Linked DNA regions of Homo sapiens: region 2 is linked to region 1. The links come from fine-mapping of genetic effects on plasma protein levels. Region 1 holds a variant in brackets. A gene starts in the other region. All regions are shown on their forward strands.

Evidence for each region. PIP is the posterior inclusion probability: the model's chance that the variant is causal. The UK Biobank Pharma Proteomics Project read protein levels with antibody pairs (Olink). The fine-mapping took linkage between variants from a reference panel, not from the people measured, so its PIPs are less certain.
Region 2: it holds the start of LGALS3, and the variant in region 1 is fine-mapped to the plasma level of the LGALS3 protein (UK Biobank, PIP above 0.99).

Annotation. Positions count from the first base shown.
Region 1 is chr19:5,869,995-5,872,894 of GRCh38, forward strand. It overlaps FUT5 (fucosyltransferase 5), which reads right to left and starts at 546. Exons shown (of 2, transcript NM_002034.2): 1 at 471-546. RefSeq lists an enhancer at 1,004-1,298. The variant G/A (reference allele first, on the strand shown) is at 1,362.
Region 2 is chr14:55,126,643-55,129,499 of GRCh38, forward strand. It overlaps LGALS3 (galectin 3), which reads left to right and starts at 2,610. Exons shown (of 6, transcript NM_002306.4): 1 at 2,610-2,658. RefSeq lists a silencer at 2,306-2,857.

The DNA.
Region 1 (2,900 bases):
GGCGGGGGTTGCAGTGAGCTGAGATTGCGCCACTGCACTCCAGCTTGGACAACAAAAGCTAAACTCCATCTCAAAAAAAAAAAAAAAAAAAAAGAAAAAGAAAAACATTAAATTTCCTGGTATTCTTTTTTAATGTGGTTGCTGGGAAGTTTTCTTTCTTTCTTTCTTTTTAAAATTATTATTATTTTTTGAGATGGAGTCACCGTGAGCCACTGTGCCTGGCCTATTGCTGGGAAATTGTAAATTACATTCGGGGTAGAAAACAGTTTGGTGCTTCCTTGAAAAGCCTGAGAGATACTTATCACATCACCAGCAATCTCCCTCCTAGGTAGAAGCCCCAAAGAATTAACAACAAAAGGACGCAAACAGATACTTGTACACCCATGGTCACAGCAGCCTGACTCACAACAGAACAAACAGCCCAAAGGTAGAAACTACCCAGATGTCCATCAATAGAAGAACAAATATACCTAGTGTGATCCATCCACACAATGGAATATCACTCAGCCATGAAAAGGCTGGGCGAGGTGGCTCATGTCTGTAATCCCAGCACTTTGGGAGGCCGAGGCAGGTAGATCACGAGGTCAGGAGATCAAGACCATCCTGGCTAACACGGTGAAACCCAGTCTCTATGGAAAATACAAAAAAATTAGCTGGGCATGGTGGTGGGCGCCAGTAGTCCCAGCTACTTGGGAAGCTGAGGCAGGAGAATGGTGTGAACCCAGGAGGCGGAACTGGCAGTGGGCCGAGATTGTGCCACTGCACTCCAGCCTGGGTGACAGAGTGAGGCTCCGTCTCAAAAAAAAAGAGAAAACCTGTCTCTACTAAAGATATAAAAAAAAGAGCCGGCATGGTGGCACATGCCTGTAATCCCAGCTACTTGGGAGGCTGAGGCAGGAGAATTGCTTGAACCCGGGAGGCAGAGCTTATAGTGAACCAAGATTGCGCCACTGCACTCCAGCCTGGGCAACAGGGCAAGACTCTGTCTCAAAAAAAAGAAAAGGAGCGAGGCTCCCACACAGGCCACAGCGTGGATGAAGGCTGAGGACATCACATTCAATGACAGAAGCCAGACACAAAATGCCACACAGTGTGTGATCCCATTTCTGGGAAATGTCCAGGACGAGCCGATCCACAGAGACAGGAAGTAGAACAGAGGTGACTGGAGGCTGGAGAGGGGAGAATGTTTGTTTAACGGGTCCAGAGTTTCTGTTTGGGGTGATGAAAGTTTTGGAAAGATGCTGGAGTGATGGTTGCACAACACTGCACGCGATGCCACTGAATTGTATGCTTAAAAATGCCTAAATGCGCCAGGTGCGGTGGCTCACGCCTGTCATCCCAGCACTTTGGGAGGCTGAGGC[G/A]GGAGGATCACCTGAGGTCAGGAGTTCGAGACAAGCCTGGCCAACATGGTGAAACCCCGTCTCTACTAAAAATATAAAAATTAGCTGGGCATGGTGGTGCACACCTGTAATCCCAGCTACTCAAGAGGCTGAGGCAGAAGACTCACTTCAACCCAGGAGGCAGAGGCTGCAGTGAGCAACAAGAGCAAAACTCTCTCTCATAAAAAAAAAAAAAAAGCCTAAATGGTGAAGTTTATGTTATACATATATGTATGGATATATGGAATTACAATTTAAAAATAAGGTGGCTGGGCGCGGTGGCTCACACCTGTAATCCCAGCACTTTGGGAGGCCAAGGCGGGCGGATCACCAGGTCAGGAGATTGAGACCATCCTGACTAACATGGTGAAACCCCACCTCTACTAAAAATACAAAAAGAAATTAGCCAGGCGTGGTGGCGGGCGCCTGTAGTCCCAGCTACTTGAGAGGCTGAGGCAGGAGAATGGTGTGAACCCGGGAGGCGGAGCTTGCAGTGAGCTGAGATAGCACCACTGCACTCCAGCCTGGGCGACAGAGTGAGACTCCGTCTCAAAAAAAAAAAAAGGTAACACACCAAAAACCATTGACTTATTTACTTGTACACCTTAAGTTGGCTCACTGTATGGTATGTGAATTACATCCTGATGAAACCGTTTATTTATTTTTGAGACTGAGTCTTGCTCTGTTGCCCAGGCTGGAGTGCAGTGGCACAATCTCAGTTCACTGCAACCTCCACCTCTGCGTTCAAGTGATTCTCCTGCCTTAGCCTCTCAAGTAGCTGGGATTACAGACACACACCACAATGCCCAGCTAATTTTTGTATTTTTAGTAGAGACGGGGTTTCACCACGTTAGCCAGGCTGGTCTCGAACTCCTGACCTAAAGTGATCCACCCGCCTTGGCCTCCCAAAGTGCTGGGATTACAGGCATAAGCCACCACGCCCAGCCGATGAAGCTGTTTTAAAATGATGTAGGGTTGCCAGCTTTCTCTGTTGGGCCAAGTTGGTCTTAACCTTGCAGCAGGTGACCTGGGTGTGATGAAGTGATCCAGACACCCAGTCCCAAGCTCATGCCAAGGTTCTGGAAAGAGATTCAAAACACAAGCCCTCAGGGCACAGTCCGAGCCCAGAGTGGGAGGGAGGTTGAACTTTGACCAATTACTGCTTTGTACCATTGGACTCTAGAGCCTCAGGCACAGGTTAATTTTTATTTTTAAGACGGAGTCTCGCTCTGTTGCCCAGGCTGGAGTGCAGTGGCACTATCTTGGCTCACTGCAAGCTCCGCCTCCTGGGTTCACGCCATTCTCCTGCCTCAGCCTCCCGAGTAGCTGGGACTACAGGGCCCGGCTAATTTTTTGTATTTTAGTAGAGACGGGATTTCACCGTGTTAGCCAGGATGCTCTTGATCTCCTGACCTCATGATCCGCCCGCCTCGGCCTCCCAAAGTGCTAGGATTACAGGTGTGAGCCACTGCGCCCAGCCAGGCACAGGTTAATTTTTATAAAGTAATTGATATTAAGATG
Region 2 (2,857 bases), not on the chromosome of region 1:
TAAAAAACTGGCTTTGCTGCCGGGCGCAGTGGCTCACGCCTGTAATCCCAGCACTTTGGGAGGCTGAGGTGGGCAGATCACCTGAGGTAGGGAGTTTGAGACTAGCCTGACCAACGTGGAGAAACCCCATCTCTACTAAAAATTGGCCAGGGTGGTGGTGCATGCCTGTAATCCCAGCTACTGGGGAGGCTGAGGCAGGAGGAGAATCACTTGAACCTGGGAGTGGAGGTTGCGGTGAGCCGAGCAAAACTCCGTCTCAAAAAAATAAAATAAATAAATAAATAATCGGCTCTGCTTTCTTCTCCAATTACTGTCTTTCTTTCTCTTTTCTGCTTATCCTTAAAGACTTTCCCTTTTTGTTCTCATCTTCATCTCCTACTCTCTTCTGGCTCTAACTGAAGTTCTCACGCAGCTTCCCTCCTGACCTTCTGGACAGCCACCTGCTTTCCCAAGTTTCCTCCTTTCCCTCCTGTGGAGATGCCTCTCTTAGAATCCTTGCTTTTATCAGCGGCTTACAATCTCTGCATCCGTAGAAACCAGACAGCCTTTTTGTTTGAGGGCTAACACTTGCCTTGTCCCTATTTCAAATAACACAGTGAGCTGTACATAGAAGTTACTCAATGATATCTTAATTGATTTTATTGGGTTCCTTTTTACGCTTATCTTAGAAAAGGGATGTGACTTTGGATTGGGTAATAAAGAGCCGTTTATTGCATGTGTACAAATTATAAATTCCCAGGCACACCCTGATCATAGCAGGATCCTTTTGTTAGCTTTATGGGGCATGAAGTTGGCACCAAAGTATTCATGGGGATGTACAAGTAAGGAAGGGAAGCCAAAAGCATGTCTGATCATACAATCAGGTGTAAGCAAGCCCCCTAAGTAGCCAGGGCATGAACTTTGTCTATCTCTGAAATGACCAGAAGAAAAGGCAAGAGTGTGATTCATCCCTTGCCTCCACAGCAATTCATTTGGCTATCTACTTTTCTTATTACCAATGGCTAACCCTCTAAGGGTACCACTCCTGGCCATGAGGCCTCATGACTCAAAGTCTTAAGATTTATAGCATTTTCCCTGGAGACCAAGGGCATTCCTTTGGGTGATACCTTTTTACTACCCAGAGGTTAGTCATTTACTATGGGTGATCCATTCAAATAAATTGGTTGCCAGGCTACCTCTTCAGATAAGAGTTCAAACTTGCATAAATAATCCCCAGCCACACTGTGACTTCTATGTGCAAGCCTAGAGGGGACGATGTTGCAGGAACCGTGCCAACCACTAAGACACTTTCAAGTTTATCCTAGAGAATGCCAAGACAGCTTCTCAATTCCATCAAGTGAGTCCTTCACAGGAACATTTCCCTAAGTTGAAAAACTGCAGGAAATAATTTATCTTTATGTTATTAATTGGTTACTATAAGGGCTACAGGAATTATTTAGGAACCAGATGATACCTGGTTTTCTCCATAGTTTACATAAGCCAGTCCCTGCAAAGATTCTTCCCCTACCCCCCTTAATTTTTTTTTTTTTCCTCAGAGATCCTTGTTCCAACCTGCAAGGATTCTTTGGCCTGGTGCTTTTCCAGGTAAAGTGTAAGAGCCAGGATTTCTGGATTTTGTTCCTAGACATGAGTGAGCTTGGATAAGTAAATCATTTTCTCTTTTAGTCTGTTTGGGCTTCTGTAACAAAATATCATAAACTGGGTAGCTTATAGGCAATATACATTTATTTCCCACAGTTCTGAAGGTCGGGAAATCCAAGATCCAGGCCAGCAGATTTGATGTCTGGTGAGGGCCTGCTTTCTGGTTCACAGAGGGAGCCTTCTGGCTGTGTCTTCACAAGGTGGAAGTGGCAAGGGGTCTCTCTCCGGCCTCTTTTATTAGGGCACCAATCTCATTCATAAGGACCCTGCCCCTATGACCTAATCACTTCCCAAGGCCTCCACTTCCTAATACATCACCGTGAGGGTTAGGATTTCAACATATGAACTTTGGCGGGATATAAACATTCAGACTATAGCACCCTGACAGTAAAAATGAGATAATAATACTTATCTCTTTCTTCCAACAAAAAGATAAGGTGAAGTTAAAAGGAGGGTATATATATATATAATGTGAATTTCCTGTGTAAAATGTGTTAAAGAGTTGTCTGATTAATTGCTTTATAAGGGAATTGCTTTGAGACTAGGCCTATTGATCTAGAATAAGTAGTCAATTTGTAGTCAGTTCCCTAGGGAATAGACATTGAAAAGATTTTTGGTTTTGTATTCTACAAATAAAGCAACCTATTAATTGAATTCCTCTCAGCGAATTCTTCACTCAGGTGATTCTGGAGAGGGCGGGGGACAGACGCGGCCGCAGCCCAGGTCCCGGGAGCGCCACGGAACCTAACGGTGGCAGCGGAGGTCGCGCCCCTCAGTGCCCGCGCTCTCCCCGTCGGGAGCTTCCTGGTCGCCCCTGCGGCGGCGGCTCGGGGTGTCTGGCCGGCGCGGGGCTCGCCCAGCCTGGTCCGGGGAGAGGACTGGCTGGGCAGGGGCGCCGCCCCGCCTCGGGAGAGGCGGGCCGGGCGGGGCTGGGAGTATTTGAGGCTCGGAGCCACCGCCCCGCCGGCGCCCGCAGCACCTCCTCGCCAGCAGCCGTCCGGAGCCAGCCAACGAGCGGTGAGCTGCGCGGGGCGCGGGGGACGCGGCTCCGGCCGGGCAGGGGAGAGGGCGCCCGGGCGCTGCTTGGGGCGCGGTCCGGAGAGGGTTCGGCTCCCCGGGACCGGGCCGGGGCGCGCGCGGAGAGCCCCACAGCCTGTGCTCTGCCCTCCAGGAGCGGGGCGGCGGGCAGCGATCTGGGCCCGGGGCAGTCGCCTTT